2 separate regions of the Homo sapiens genome follow, and region 1 is linked to region 2. The links come from fine-mapping of genetic effects on gene expression. Tissue or cell type: whole blood. Region 2 holds a variant in brackets; the other region holds the start of a gene. All regions are shown on one strand. Distances are from middle to middle.

Evidence for each region. PIP is the estimated chance that this variant, and not a neighbour inherited with it, causes the effect.
Region 1: it holds the start of RRAD, and the variant in region 2 is fine-mapped to the expression of RRAD in whole blood (TOPMed, PIP above 0.99).

What each region holds. Positions count from the first base shown.
Region 1 is chr16:66,922,244-66,930,331 of GRCh38, forward strand. RRAD (RRAD, Ras related glycolysis inhibitor and calcium channel regulator) reads right to left here and starts at 3,292. Exons shown (of 5, transcript NM_004165.3): 1 at 3,166-3,292; 2 at 2,567-2,951; 3 at 1,603-1,676; 4 at 1,273-1,477; 5 at 1-110. The coding sequence starts at 2,936. RefSeq lists enhancers at 1-446, 4,912-6,111, 5,829-5,998 and silencers at 2,657-3,096, 3,227-3,286.
Region 2 is chr16:67,149,953-67,158,052 of GRCh38, forward strand. It overlaps B3GNT9 (UDP-GlcNAc:betaGal beta-1,3-N-acetylglucosaminyltransferase 9), which reads right to left and starts at 1,046. Exons shown (of 2, transcript NM_033309.3): 1 at 913-1,046; 2 at 1-719. The coding sequence starts at 533. TRADD (TNFRSF1A associated via death domain) reads right to left here. Exons shown (of 5, transcript NM_003789.4): 2 at 6,558-6,716; 3 at 5,425-5,702; 4 at 5,144-5,342; 5 at 4,233-5,007. The coding sequence starts at 6,708. The coding sequence ends at 4,697. RefSeq lists silencers at 402-831, 842-1,001, 5,498-5,687, 5,728-5,797 and an enhancer at 5,664-6,565. The variant G/T (reference allele first, on the strand shown) is at 3,356.

The DNA of each region.
Region 1 (8,088 bases), 230 kb before region 2:
CAGGCGTATCTGGCGCACGACACCTTCAAACAGCGCCTGGACATTGTGGTGCAATGCCGCTGATGTCTCAATGAACTTGCAGTCAAAGACCACCGCGCAGGCCCGGCCCTCTGTGTGGGTGGGGAAAGGCAGGCACCAGTAAACAAAGGGTGGGTGAATGAGGAGTCCCCTCCAACAGTGGCCACCCATGGAAGCTGCCACTCGAGAATTTGCAAGGTCCTCCCCGAAAACACAGAGACCCCAGCTCCTGTACTGAGGGTACTGGGCACTGCTGCGTCACCCAGTAGGCAGAGTGCCTGCATTTAAGGAGCCCCCAAAACAGTGGCCCTCAAAAGGAGATCCATTTATTGAAATAATTTGAAGCCTGATATTTAAACAAAGTACGACAGTAGTAAACACAGGAAAATGAGAACTATGTTGGACAACTTAGTATTTTATTTTATTTTATTTTATTTTTCTGAGATAGAGTCTCGCTGTCTCCCAGGCTGGAGTGCAGTGGCACAATCTCTGCTCACTGAAAGCTCCGCCTCCCGGGTTCACGCCATTCTCCTGCCTCAGCCTCCCGAGTAGCTGGGACTACAGGCGCCCGCCACCACGCCCGGCTAATTTTTGTATTTTTAGTAGAGATGGGGTTTCACCATGCTAGCCAGGATGGTCTCGATCTCCTGACCTCGTGATCCACCCGCCTCGGCCTCCCAAAGTGCTGGGATTACAGGCGTTAGCCACCCCCTGGCCCATGCCCCGCACAACTTAGTATTTTTTAATTCGAGGTTATATCATGATGAATGATCCAGTGGACTGGGGTTGCGGAGGCAAGGTCACCAAGTCACTGCTGGGTTCCTCTGAGGGGCTCAGTACTGGGGTCCACAGAAAAGGATGCTGAGGCCAAGTGGGAAGGGTCTTCCCCAGGGCCAAGTCTACTCTAAGAATGGCCCAGACCTAGCACACAGGCTCTGACCTCCTGGCCTGTTCCCCTACACTCTCTTCCACCCATTTACCCCCCCAACCAGCCAGGCCAGGACCAAGAGGGGCAGGAGAGGAGGGCCCTGCGGTGCCCAGCTCCCCTATCAGATTTGGTTCTTTCCCCAGCCCTCTGGGGCCTTCCGGAGCCCTGTGAGCAGGCACCAGCTCTCTCCCATTTCCCTCCCCGCCAGTTTTCTTTCTGAACATTTTTAGCCTCTGATGATCCCCAGGGACTCAAGCTGAGCCAAGACTGCCTGGATCAGGGCCCAGCTGGGCTCTCCCTCCCCCTGCAACCTGCCGCCTACTCACCATCCACCGAGACCTCACGAGAGCGCACCAGGTCGCTCTTGTTGCCCACGAGGATGATGGGCACATCATCTGTTTGCCGTGCACGCCGCAGCTGGACCCGCAGTTCTGAGGCCTTCTCGAAGCTGCCCTTGTCCGTCACTGAGTACACAATGACATAGGCATCCCCCATGGCCATGCAGTGGCCGGGCAACCAGCGGCCCCCGTCCTGGAGAACACACAACACACATCTGCCCAACAGTCCTCATGCCCCCGACACGAGCCTGGCACTCCCAGACCTCTAACCCAACTCACTCCTCCCTCCCCTGCCCTGGGTCTCTGCTTGCACCCTACCTGCTCCCAAATGTCGTAGACCATGAGTGATGCCTCTTCTCCGTCCACTACAATGGAGCGATCATAGGTGTGCCCTAGGCAGAAGGCCAGTAGACAGGTTACCAGCTGGTTGTCAAAGCCGCTGCTGCCAGGTTTCCTGTTCTGGCCACACCCTCCAACTCTTCCCCAGAGCCCTCCTTACCCTCCACTCCACTTGCAGATGCTGGTATGTGGCAACAGCAGTGCCAGGCAGGGAAGTGGGGGCTGGAGGGCATGGTGTGCCTGACCTCCACCCACATGCCCCCCCTGGGGACCTTGGCCACCTAGGGCTCCTCTCTTAGAAATCCCTCTGGTTAGAAACTCTGACCTGTCCCTGATAGGCAGGGAGGGATGTCCAGTCCCATCCCACAGAGTAGCCATATCTATGCCCTGGCCTTCTACTCTGGGCATTTCTTCCCTACCAAAGGCTGGGGGGTGTCCCTTCTCCTTTCCTTTCCCCATTTATGAAGTGGGTAGGTAGAGGCATGATTCTGAAAGCGCCAATAGAATTCCACAGTATTGGCCAGGTGCGGTGGCTCACGCCTGTAATCCCAGCACTTTGGGAAGCCAAGGTGGGCGGATCACGAGGTCAGAAATTCCAGACCAGCCTGGCCAACATGGTGAAACCCCAACTCTACTAAAAACACAAATATTAGCCGGGCGTGGTAGCAGGCGCCTGTAATCCTAGCTACTCTGGAGGCTGAGGCAGGAGAATCCCTTGAAACCTGAAGGCGGAGGTTGCAGTGAGCCTAGATCGAGGCCACTGCACTCCAGCCTGGGAAAAAGAGCGAAACTCTGTCTCAAAATAATAATAAAATAATAATAATAATAATAATAACAACAACAACAACTATAATTCCACGGTATTTGCGGCTTTGAGTACCGGTCTCAGCCCCTAGTCCTAGCCCCGGGATCGCCCCTCCCCTGAACAGCTGGGTCCCCTCACCTGCTGCCTCTGCTTCAGGCCCGTCCTCCACACCGCCGAAGATGCGCGCCAGGGCGCTCTTGCCCACGCCGGGCGCCCCCAGCAGCAGCACCTTGTAAACGCTCTCGTCTGAGTCGCTGCCCCCTGAGCTGAGCGAGTCCTCGGAGTCCTCGGGCCAGTCCAGCCTGGGACCCTGGGTCCCCGTCCCGGCCGCGGCCGCCGTCAGGGCACCCGGGGTCAGCGCCGCCTGCAGGTCGCGCTCGTCCACCGGCATGCTGCGGCGGTGCAGCGGCGGGGCGGGGCCCCAGGGTGTGCTGCCCCGACGGCGCTCGCGCTCCTGGCCCCCACCGCGGCTCCCGCCCGCTCCGCTGCCGCCGCCGTTCAGGGTCATCGCGTCCGGGACCGTCTAGGGGATCAGGAACCCGAGTGGCCGTGTAAGCCGCGAGGGAGGCGGGACCCGGGGCGCACCTGCCCAACCCGGAGTCAGGCGGGATGCTCCGGCCGAGGTCCCGCCGCAGCCCTCCCCCAGCCCCCAGGTCGCGGCGCCCTCACCCGGGACCCCTCCGGACCTGGCGCATCCATCTGCAGCCGCCCCGACCCCGCTCCGCCAGGACACTCACCCACTCGCACACAGACACGCTCAGGACTAGGATCCGGATTAGGAGGCCACGCACTCGTAGTCCGGACTCGGACTTTAGGGTTTCCGCCGCCGCTGCTGCTGCAGCCACCGCCTTCTCAGCCCGCACTGGGCTCTGGCTCCAGAGCCGCCTATTTAAGCCTCCACCCGCCCCCGCTCCCGCCCCCGGTCCACGCTGCTGCGGGGGCTGACGTGTCTGTCCACCCCCACCAGGGGAATCCCCCACCCTCTTCCTCGGACCTTACATCCCCGACACCCCGCCCTACCCGCCAGGGGAGTAGCGGTAGCTGTCTGGGAATAGAGGGGCTGACCGGTAGGCGAGGTCCGGAGCTGAGGGTGTGTGTGAGAAGGAGAGAGAGAGCGAGGTTGCGGGGGGAGTACGTGATGGGGAGGCAGGCAGCGGGGTAAACCCAATCAGCCAAAAGCAGCAACTGCCCTCTGGAGAAGAATTCGGTCTGGCCCCGTGAGACTGAATTCTCCCTTTCCTCTCCCCAAGTCCCGGCTCGTCCTTTTAGCAAGTAAGCTAGTTACAGGCTGGACAGAGATCCCCCTTCTCTGCCCATGACACCCACTCCCCATAGGCTCAGGTCTGAGCTAGAATTTAGGGGGTGTCCTAAATTCACACAAAATCCTTTCCACTCCCCATCCTGGAGTTGAAGATTCTCCCTAATGAGCCTAACCTTCAGTGTGAGGGTTGGTGTCACCCCATGAGCCCCTGGGGGCCCTGAGAGGGCTGTTGGGGGTGGGGGCAGCTCTGACAGAGTTGCAGGTGGAGATGCCTGCTTGAACCCTGGGGAGGATACCCCAGCCCAGAAGAGGGAAGGGATTAAACTCAGTCCCCATCCCACCTCCCAGCACCCACCAGGCAGCTGCCAGCAACTCTGCTAAAAATAAATAATCTGCCCCAGCCCTGGCCCTGGCCGTGGCTCTGGTTATTCTGCTCCTGGACTGGAAGTTGCCCAGAGTTGGGGAAATCCAGGCCAATGGGTGTTGAATGCCAGCAGGAGCCAGCCACTTCGAGTCGTCAAGGTCTCCCTTCTTCCCTCTAGCTGTAGGCTGAGCCAGCCACCCAGGGCACATCCAGGGCCTGGAGGTTCAGGCCCCCACCCAAAAGGGGCATAAACACAGGGTGTGGTCAAGGCATGAGGAGTGTCTTAGCTCCCTGCTCATCTCTCAGGGGTCTGAGGGTTGCAGGTCAGGCTGTGAGGTATTTTGTGACAGGGACCTGCTATCAGACTGTGACATCTGATTGTGACAAGTGTGGTGGGGGTGGGAGGGCATCCATTTGGGGCTCAGGTGACATCACAGATGGATGGACCCTGGTGGGCTGTGGTAGGTTGTCATGGAGACCTGGGCCAGGCTCTTTGGCTGCTGCATCAGTTTCCTTGGCAACGCCTAAGAAGGCCTTGGATTGAGGAGGGCCTGGCTCGGTAAGATTAGGGCCCTCTTGTCCTTGAGGTCTTCAAAGTAGGCAAAAGCTGGGCTGAGGGGTGGCCTGCCCATGGTCCTAGGGGATCTTGGAGGCCTGAGCATCCCCATGCTGGTTCTGGCTTCCTGAACGAACTCCAGTGGGAAGAGGAAGTTATGGGCAGAGCCTCCCGTTAGCAGGCAAGTCTAAAGAGCCACCACACACTTCCCATGAGGAATCCTGGCTGGGCTGCCTGTGCCCCCTCCAACCCCATGACTGTGCCACTGGAAAGAGCCTCCTCTGGGTGTCTGGCAGAGGGCGAGGGTGGGGGGTAGCTGTGGCCCTTCCCAGCAGGGGGCCATGCAAAGAAGGAGGGCTGGGTTTCCCCTCTGGCAATCTGAGCTCTTGACCTCAGCAGTGTTTCTTCATTGCCAAGGGAACTGCAACCACAAAGGGCCACTCAAGCCCCAGGCATTCCAGTGGCTGCTCCAACAGGCCAGAGACACTCACCACAAGCTAGATATGGCCAGGGGCCCCAGGGATTAACACCAGGACACAACCTTGAGACACCCCCACTCCCACCACCTGGTTCTCCCAGCTCTCTGGGCTGAGCATGGCTGCCCAGGAGGAATAAACTGAGGCTAGAACCACTCCTAGGTCCGCCCGGGCTTCAGATCCCAGCTGTGCTCCTTGCTAGCTGTTTCACCTGTGTCCATTTATCTAGGCTGAGCCTCAGTTTCTCCAGTGTAGAACAGGGATCACCTCTTCCTGATGGTTATTATAAGACAAAACAAACATGAAATGCAGAGGCACAGTAGTTGGCTCAAGTCGGGCACACAGTAATATCTCACTAAGAGCACGTTTATCATGATCATCCTTCGTTGGATGGGGCAGGTTAGGTGAATTTGTGGTCCCTCTCCTGTTTCTGCTCCACTCTCTCCAGGATGGTGGTCTGTCCAGGAGTGGGGCAGAGGTCTCAGGAACAATGCAGATACCTCTCCCCTAGCCCCATACCCATGTCTCCTCTCTGTAGGACCCCACACTCTTCCCCGTCCCTCAGGTGACAAGATGCTGCAGAGGGAACTGGGCTGGGCTTCAGTGTCCCCACCCCCTCCTCACACCACAGCCTTCAGGCCCCAGAGCCTCTGCTGTGTTCTAAGGCCCAATGCATTCATTCATTCCGCGGTCCTGTACTAAATACCTACTGTGTGCCAGGCCCTTGTGCTGGGGGCAGGATGATGAGCAAAAATAGACATGGCCGGGCATGTTCATACATGTCATCTAATCCCTGGGTCAAACTCAGCTATGATTTGTTGTTCCCATTTTGTAGACATGGTAACCAAAGCCTGAGGAGTCACAGGCCAGAAACAGCAGAGCCAGACATACCTGGTGGAGGGTTTCAGGAACCTCAAACTTCACCATCCCCTGTACCCTTGTGTCCTCAGATAGCATCTGGGGTTCCAGAAAGTTCCCTGGGCACTGGCCCAGGATGCACAGATGGTGGCCCTGCAGGCAGCCAGGGGCCAGGCACTGATGAGTCAAGAGTGACAAGAGAACTATCTGATATGTCAGCTGTGGCATGAGCAGTTTGGTGTCCCTCACCCACCATGGCCTGGCTGCCAGGAAGGCCAGCCAAATGACTCAATCACACCTGCCGCCCCCATGACTCCCTTCATCCCCAGCTCAACACAGACACCATGGCCACCTCAGACAGGGACTGTCCGGCAGAAGGTACACACGTCGTAGGGTGTGAGGCCTTCAGCTCGGGAAGGCTCCCTGGGGCTCAGCTGTTCACTCTGCCTCTCTGGAGCCCTCAGCTTCCTCATCTGTGCGGGATACAGTGCCTAGATCATCAGAGCTAGGCCTAGACCCATTTAAATCTCCCAAGGGCAGTCCCAAGTGGTTGCCATGACTATCCCCCTCACAGATGAAGAAGCTCTGGGCAATAGGGGCTGATGGCTTCACCTCTCTGATCTTAGGTAGCCAGATCCAGCACCTCCTCTTGGTCATTAGGTGGCGAGGCCACTCCCTCCTAAGAGTGAGCTGAGTGGGAGCAATAGGAGTTGGGGTTCAGGATGGGCTTAGCCCCTTCTGTAGGCAACGGCGCCCCCTGCCAGCTGCACAGCACCTATCAAGCTGCTCAGGGCCTCCTTTACTCCCTAGCTGTAAGTTTTTTTTTTTTTTTGAGACAGGGTGTTGCTCTGTCACCCAGGACGGAGTGCAGTGGCACAATCATAGCTCACTGCAGCCTCAACCTCCTGGGCTCAAGCGATCCTCCCACCTCCGCCTCCCGAGTAGCTGGAACCACAGGCATGCACCACCATTCCCCACTAAATACACACACACATTTTATTTTAGAGACAGGGTCTTGCTATGTTGCCCAGGCTTGCCTCAAAATGCTGGGCTCAGGCGATCCTCACATCAGCCTCCCAAAATGCTGGGATTACAAGTGTGAGCCACCGTGCCCGGCTAGATGTCTTGAGAAGTAAATTAGAGTTGTCCCTTGGTATCCACAGGGGATTGGCTCCAGGATCCCCATGAATCCCAAAATCCATGAATACTTAACTCCTTTACATATATTTTTTTACTTTGTTTTTTAAACTCAACTTCAGTGGCTGAGATCAAGTCTCTTATATAAAATGGCACAGTATCTGCATTTAACCTCTGCACATTCTTCCATATATTTTAAGTCATCTCCGGATTACTACTGTAATACCTAATACAATGTAAATGCTATGTAAGTTGTTGTTAGACTGCATTGTTTAGGGAATAACAACAAGAAAAAAAGTTTGTACATGTCCAGTACAGACACAGTCATCCTAGGCCTAACTACATTTTCGATCCACAGCGGGTTGTACCCATGGATGTAGAACGCATGGATAATGGAGGTCTGACTACATTTATTCTAGAAGCCCATTTCCTGTCCGAAAATTGGGGATAAAGAATAGCAAGCGAGGTGTGATGGCACATGCCTGCAGTCCCAAGAATTCAGGAGGCTGAGGCAAGAGAATCCCTGGAACCCAGGCATTCAAGGCTGTAGTGTGCTATAATCATACCTACGGATAGCCACAGTACTCCAGCCTGGGCAACATAGCGAGATTCTGTGTCTCAAAAAAAAAAAAAAAAAAGAGAGAGAGAGGATAGCAATTGCTGCATAGGGCTGGATGGAGAACTGACTAGATAGTAAGTGTAAAGCCCTCGACTGAATTCCACTCTTAGGATAGGCTCAATGCTGTCAGCAGGCCCTCAAGAACAGATCTGCAAAATGGCCAGGATCCCTACTGAGGCTTCTCTGCCCACAATCATATCTGGGCCTCAGTAGGGATGAGGTGGGGTTGGGCACTGCTTCTTAATATTGCCATTTATCTTCAGAGAATGAGACTAAAGCAGGAAGGATGCTCCCCCTGGGAAAGTGATCCTAACCAGCTAAGCCAAGGTCTAAGCCCTACAGTCTGTCCAGGTGACCAAATGCAATCTGGGCATAGGGCCAAGGGGAGG
Region 2 (8,100 bases):
CAGTGGGTTCGCGCGCCCTCCCCAACTTCGTCGGCCCCGCCCGAGCCTGCGCCCCTGGGCACGCCCAGCAAGAACACGCGGCGCACCAGCGCCCCCTGCACGCGACCCTCCGCGCCCCACGTCTGGCGCACGGCTTGGCGCCGCTCGAAGTCCTCTGCCACCGACTTGACAGCAATAAGCAGGTCCGGGCGGCCACCGGGTGCGCCGTCGCCGCGGCACTTGTGCGGCTGGTTAATGAGCAGTGGAAACCGCCGCTGGTCCTTGGCGCGCAAATAGCGGGCGAAGTCAAAGGGTCCCGTAGGCGTGGGCGGCGCCGGTGTGTCCCCTTCGTAGGCCGGCGGGGCTGCACCCGCGTCGGGTAACTGGAACGCGCGGGGTCCGGGGGTGGGCCTCGGTGCCGCCCTCCCTCGCCCTCGCGGCGCGCTCGCCGTCGGGGCCGCGCCGTCGCGCTGCGCATAGAGTAAGAGGCCCAGGGAGGCGCCAAGGAGCAGCGTGAGCAATGCGTCCCTGCGTAGGCGCAGCCTCCTCCTCATCTCCGCGCGGCCTGCGCCCTCCCTCCCCTGTAAGGGTCGCAGTCGGCAGCAGGGGGCAGCGAGCCCCGCCCTCCCCAGCTGAGGGGGCGGGAGGCCACGCCCCGGGGGGGGCTCCAGCGACCGACGGTTGAGCCCCTTGCGTTGTTCTCCTCCTCCCGGCCGTGTCGCACCGCCGGGACCGGCAGCCTGAAGGGACAAGAAGTTCACCCATGTAGCCAACTCCCCCGCGGCCTCAGCTCCGGCCCAGGACTGCGACCCAGGGCCGGGCAGGGAGACTGGGAGCCTCGGCCCCTCCCCCGCCCGCCTCCCTCGCGCTGAGGCCGAATCCCTTCCACCCTGCCATCCCCTCAATGTCGGGCCCTGGGGTCCCGACACTCACGCTCGGCCCTCGGAAGTGGCGCAGCCCCGGACGCCCTGGCCTCCGGGGCTCAGCGCAGGGTCCGAGGGGCCGCCATGGACCGGGCCCGAGCCAAATGCAGCGTTGGCAGGAAGGGGGACCGGTGCCGTGCCACGTGACCCTCCAGCTGTGCGCGCCCAGACTTCTGGAGCTCAGCTCCGCCCCGGCGCCAGGAGCACTCCGGCCTCAGAGTGGGGACTAATCCCTGAGAGGGAGCCTCCTCACTCTCAGTCCCTCTGGGAAGGGCTGGTCTGGGTGCTCACACCCCAAATTCGCCTTTCTGGGGATTGGGAAGAAGCATCAACTCCCCTGGTTAGCTCCCCCAACTATCCACTCCCCACTCCCGCGTCTCTGGAGTGGGGCGGAGCCTGGGCTGCTAGGAGCCCCTGAGCAGGCCGGTTCCAAATGCGCATGAACCTGGCCACCATCCCGGGCGGGCCTCTCCTCAGCAGCCCTGATTCCATCAGGCAGGGTGCATACGCTGCCCCCGAGACACATGGCTGTCTTCTTACTCCTGGTTCTGCCATGCTCCCCACCCCCAGTAAACACACGCACGGGACAAACAAGGCAGCCCACCCAATCCTCAGGGCAACTCTGCCAGCAGCTCTCATTCATGCCCAGATGGGGACACTGGGGGGCTCTTCGGGGAGTTAAGTGACTTGCCCAGGATCCAAAGGCCAGAAAGCTCTGCCCCCAGGTCTTCTGAAATTCAGGCCAGGATTATTTTATCTGTCCTTGCCCCGCTCATTCATCCACTGGGATACAGAACAGGGGGCCAACCCAGTCTGCTTTAATTTCACAGGCAAGCACTTCAGCCTGTCTCCCCGGGGGCTAATGGACCTGAGCCCAAGCCAGGTGCAGTTCTGAGTCCCCTGGTCCCCAGCATAGCCTACTGCAGGTAGAAATGATCAGGCCTGTGCAGCTGCAGGTCAGACAGGGCTGGCAAGGATGGGGACAGCTTGGGAAGACTCCTGGCGGAGGCCTTGGCTAAAGGATTGCTCTGGGATGCAGGTGGACAGAGGTGCTCTGCAATGGAGAGCTAAGTCCTTGCGCAGCTCAGCTGCCAGCTCTCTCTTTCTTGGTCCCAGCCCATGTGGTGGAGCCTGGAATAGACAGCCTCTACTGGTCTCTTAAGAACCCAGCCCCATCCTCTGTCCAAGGGCTATATCTGCTCCTGACGGCTTCTTCCCACCAATGTTCAATCTTAAAAAGCCACCTCTCTGGCTGGGTGTGGTGGCTTATGCCTGTAACCTCAACACTTTGGGAGGCTGAGGTGAGTGGATCACTTGAGGTCAGGAAGTCAAGACCAGCCTGGCCAACGTGGTGAAACCCCCATCTCTACTAAAAATACAAAAATTAGCTAGACATGGTGGTGGGCACCTGTAATCCCAGCTACTTAGAGGGCTGAGGCAGGAGAATTGCTTGAACCTGGAAGGTGGAGGTTGCAGTGAGCCAAGAACACACCACTGCACTCCATCCTGGGCAACAGAGCGAGACTGTCTCAAAAAAAAAAAAAGGCCAGTCGTGGTGGCTTACTCCTGTAATCCCAACACTTTGGGAGGCCAAGGCAGGTGGATCACTTGAGGCCAGGAGTTTGAGACCAGCCTGGCCAACATGGAGAAACCCTGTCTCTATTAAAAATACAAAAATTAGCCAGGTATGGTGGCACGTGCCTGTAATCCCAGGTACTTGGGAGGCTGAGGCAGGAAAATCACTTGAACCCGGGAGACGAAGGCTGCAATGAGCCGAGATCGTGCCACTGCACTCCAACCTGGCAACAGAGTGAGACTCTCTCCAAAAAAAAAAAAAAAAAAAAAAGCCAAATCTCCACCCTGAGCCTTACTCTTTTTGGTCACAAAGTAATCAGGAGTCCTCTGCTCCAGCTTTCTCCGCGGCCTCACCTTCCATTCCCTCCTGTGATAAAGCTTCGGGCTGCCTCCACCATGACTCAGAAAGACCCCTGACTGGTAAGCTCCTTTTAACTGAGTCCAACAGACACTCCTCGGTCTTGACTACCCGCTCCATTATAGTGGGTGGGTAATCCCCTGGTTTCCAAATCTCCTGGTTTTCCTCCTTCCTCTTTGGCTGTTCCCATTCTGGTTGGTGTCCTTCAGGACATCCCCTGGGGCCACCCCACCCACTCCCCACCTGTCTATTCATCAATCTTTAGATTGAACCCTCATCCTGAACTCAGAACTACAGACCCAACTACCCTCATACTCTCTCCCCGGATGCACTGCAGGAACATCATGCTCAACTTGTCCCAAACAGAGCAAGCATTTCATTTCCCCCCAGGGCCCCATCCCAGCAAGCAGTCCCACCCACCATCCAACTGGCAAAGGCAGAAACTTGGGGCCCTCTCTCAGCCATTCCTCACCCAGTGTCACCAGGCCTGTTACTCTTCCACCCACACAGCTCTTTGGTG[G/T]TCATCCCCTTCCCTCCATCTCTGCTGCTACTGCCCCAGCCTGGGGCCACCATTTCCCCCACCCCCATCCTCATCAACCTCCCAGTCTTGGCCAGGTGCGGTGGCACATGCCTGTAATCCCAGCACTTTGGGAGACCAAGGTGGGTGGATCACCTGAGGTCAGGAGTTTGAGACCAGCCTGACCAACATGGAGAAACCCCATCTCTACTAAAAATACAAAATTAGCTGGGCATGGTGGTGGGCGCCTGTAATCCCAGCTACTTGGGAGGCTGAAACAGGAGAATTGCTTGAACCCAGGAGGTGGAGGTTGCAGTGAGCCAAAAACGTGCCATTACACTACAGCCTGGGAAATAAGAGTGAAGCTCCATCTGAAAAAAAATTAAAATTAAAAAAAAAAAAAAAACAACCACCTCCCAGTCTTAACTCCCGAAACTCTTCAAAGGCTTCCTACTGGCCTCATTGAAAAACCCACAAGCCTTCCTCAAGCCCTTGCCTGAGACTGTGCCCCGAACACTGCCCTTCTCTCGATAGCCCACCCCTATGCCTACTCACACTCATCTCCTCCAGGAAGCCTACCCCCTGTCCCCTGCCCAGGTTAGGCCCCTTCCTCCATCCTCCACAACTTCTCTTTTTTTTTCTTTCTTTTTTTTTTTTTTTTTTTGAGACAGGGTCTCACTCTGTCACCCAGGCTGGAGTGCAGTAGCTCAGTGACATCTCACTGCAGCCTCAACCTTCCATGCTCCAGGGATCCTCCCACCTCAGCCTCCTAAGTGGCTGGGACTACCCAGGCTGGTCTCAAACTCCTGAGCTCAAGCAATCCTCCTATCTCTGTCTCCCAAATTGTTGGGATTACAGGTGTAAGCCACTACTACTTGTATTTCTCACATCAAAATCCGTGTTATACTTTATTATCATTGCTTAACATTCGGGGTCCCACGCTGAGTGTGAGCTGGGGGCAGGCAAGATTGATTCCTGTTTTACTTCACTGCAGTATCTGCAGCACCCAGGATGAAGTCCAGGACACCAAAGATCAAGGTGCTTCATGAGTGAAACTGTAAGGGCTGGCTGTAAGCCCCGCTTCTGGGATGGGAGAAGGTGAGGCTGATCTCCAAAGCAGGTCCCCCCCACCCCACACTCTATCAAAGTACCTGAGGCAGAATCCCCAATGATGCACCCCCAGTGGTCTGGCTCCTGGGGAAGGCAATCAACTCTGCCCCAGCAGGTCCAGCAGATAGGCCAAGTGGAGTTTCAGGGTCCCGTGGATGGACAGGGGTTCAGCAATAGCCGCAGAAGGAACCCTAAGGCCATCCAGGTTCTCCAAAAGCTGGCTGCACCCCTGGTCTAGGCCAGGCCGCCATTGGGATCGGTCAGGCCCAGCAAGTCCTCTGCCAGGCTGGTGAGCTCGTTCTCCTCGAGTGCCTCCACCAGGCGCTGCAGCGTGGCGCGGCGGCCCTCGGCCTGCACGAAGCGCCGCAGCAGCTGGAAGGCCTGCTCGTACAGTCCCTCGCGCTCGTACTCGTAGGCCAGCGAGTCCAGCGCCGGGTCCCGCAGCGCCCGGCAGCCTCGCTGCAGTGAGCGCCCCACCTTGCGCCATTTGAGACCCACAGAGCGCGCGAACGTCTGTTGGTCCTTCAGGCTCAGCGGCCGATTCACTGCAGAGGGAGTGGGGAAACGGGGTGAGGGCGGGGACCCCCAGCGCCGGTCCCACCCATCCCCACCCGGCAACGACCCCTGCCCCTCCCCAGACTCCAACCTCCTGGTGACCCCGCCTCTCCACCTGCGCCTCACCTACAGGCTGACCCTGGAACAGAAAAGTCTGGGCAGGTGGCGGCGGCGGCGGCGGCTTCACCTCCGACAGAGAGGGCACCGGGGGCTGCAAGGGGGCCGAAGCGACCTCCCCGTCGCCACCCCGGGCCCCCGAGCCGCACTTCAGATTTCGCAGCGCATCCTCCAGCTCAGCCAGTTCTTCATCCCGGAGCCGGTCGGGCTAGGGGAATGGAACGTGCCGTCACGGGGGACTTAACCGCGGATCCCCGCCCTACCCCATCCTGACCCTAGCCCGGCCGCACCTGCTGGGCTAGGATGCAACTCAAACAGCGCTCCTCGTCCGCCAGCAAAGCGTCCAGCCGCTCGGCGCCGGCGCGCAGCTCCAGTTGCAGCGGCACCGAGTGCTGGGCGAGCGCGGCCGCCAGGCTCCTCTGCAGCGCGGCGCGCAGCGCCCCCTCGCGGTAGGCGCGGAGGAAGCGGCCACAGGGCTGCCGCCCGCAGAATCGCAGCTGCACGATCAGCTGCGGGTCGCTGCGGTGGATCTTCAGCATCTGCAGCACGTCCGGGCTCCCGCCGCTCTCTGCGGAGGCGGGCGGTCAGGCGCCGGGCGGTCCCCAAGCTCGGCCGTTCTCCAAACGGCCGGAGGAGGGGCGAAGCCCGTGGTGAAGCCCCGCGTCCCATCCCCTGACCTAGGGTGCAGTTACCCCAGAGTACCCAGCTGGGAAGCAAAATTGGGATACAAACAGCAATAACCCAGAAAGAAGACCAGGATCTGTCACAGGGAGCACCCTAAGACAGAGTGGGTGCCACCTAACCCCCGCTCTCACGCCCCAAATGAGGGTTGGCAAAAGAGAGGGACTTCGAAGCACAGAAAAGGGGGCGTGTGCCCTGGGCAAACAAGCCGTCTGGGTAGGCGGCCAGCAGGGCAGAGGAGGGCGAGAGGTCTCAGGTCTTCGGCCTCCACCAAGCGCGACTCCCACTGCTCGGGAAGAAGAGGGGCTCTCGCCGCTCTGAGGCCACGAACAGATCCCCCAACCCGCTTCAGCCTCCTGTGGCCTCTGCCCTGAGATGGGAAAGGGGGGCCTGGAAGGGTAGGTACTGGGGAGGGGTCTTGAGCAAGGAGTGCTGCAGTAAGAGAGGAAAAGAGGAGAGAGACATCCACAATTAGTAGAAAGGAGTGAGCCGGCTGGTGGAGGGGGGCGGGGATGGAGCAAAGGACGTTAGTGCACAAATTGGTAAATCATACACAGACTCGAGAACACACGCCTATCCTCAAGGTCATGCCACAAGCAAAGAAGAGAGTCTGCACAGCCAGGGGTCCTCCGTCTTGCTCCTCCCACCCCAAATCTTCTTCTTAAAGGTGGCTAAACCCAGGCCCACCCACAAAATGCTCCAGGCCACCCCTTCCTCTCCACATGCCCGCCCATCCACGCACCTGCCAAGGCAGCCTGCAGAGCCCTGTACACTGCCACCTTCTGCTGGGGGTGCGCGTAGGCATCCGACAGGACCACCTTGTCCAGCGAGGACTCCACAAACAGGTATGCGCTGCCCACCCACTCTTCGTGCCCATTTTGCCCAGCTGCCATCTCACCTCCTGGAGATGCAGACAGTCAGGTATCCAGTTCATCCCCCCTCCCTCCACCCTGGAGACAACTACCCAGCCCCACGTGGTTCAGCTGTCCCCACCACAGTAGCCTCAAGTCCCACATGGTTCAGTTGTCCCCACCACTGGTTGGCATACTTGGGACAGGAGTTCACCATCTCACAGGAAGCCCCTTGAGCTCCTGGCTCTGTACAGAGTCCCACCCGCCCCAGGCTTGCAGTGAGGACTGTCCCTCCACTGCCTTCTTGGAGAAAGAGCCCAAGGTCACAGTGGAGGGGGAGCAGAGGCAGATCCTGCAATGGGGCTTCTCTGCTTCCTTCTCAGGCCTGTGTGTCTCTCTTACCAATGCGGACAAGAGACATCTTCATTCTGGATGGTGCCCATGCCCCAAAGCCAACCAGACCCATATCCTGGCCTTGCCTTCTGAGTAGACTTGAGCCCAGCATTTCTGGAGGACCTCAGCCTAAGACTAAACCTCCTGTCTTCACTTCGAAGGGCACCTGTAGTTTGCATCTACCCAGATTCTCTCCCCAAGCCTGACTTACCTTTGGGGACTTCCCTCCTCCCTCTTCTCAATCCATGTGCCTGTGTCCCACTCCCTAGTTCCAGGTCGGGCTTGTGTACCAGACCTGGCCAATCTGCATATTCCATTCACATTTCTGCAGTGATTAGTTCAGGGCGGGGTATAGGACTTAAGTTGGACCCATGAGAATCAACGCTGCGACTCTGGTTGAGCCAATAGGAAAGAGGCACTACTTTCCCTTCCCTTGGGGCTGAACTGGAAGGAAAAGGTAGCTCTCCTTTAGCACTGCTTGGGAAGAGCCTGGCTGGGAATGAAGCTGACACAGAAAGAAAGAGTCAAGAGATGGAGAAGTGCATTCCTAAGCATACTAGGCCCCTGGATCCAGCCGTCCCTGAAGCCATTGCACACTGGACTTTTCAGTTATGTGAGCTAAATAATTCCTTTTTGTTATAAAGCCCTTGGAGTTCGGCTCCAGTCATTTCCAACACAAATTGCTCTATTCCTTCCCTGTCCAGAAAAAGCCAGGGCCCCTTGGTGCTAGTATAGTATCTCCTTCCTCCATCTTCTGACAAAAACCTAGCTCTGGACCAGCGGGGGCAAAATTCCCAGCCAAGGAACCACTGCACTGACCTACAGCTCAATGGTCTCCCAGTTACTACCCCGTGAGACAGCAAGTAGAAAACTGCCTCCTCTTTCTCCCCACCTCACCCTTTTCCTACCCACCCTTTTCCTATAATCATGGGCTCAAGGCCCTACCTCCTGCCCCATCAGTCACACTCCTGTACTCTCATCAGGGTTTATATATGGTGGGCTAAGAGGAGTGTTGAGTGTTAGCTATGGGGCAGGACAGAT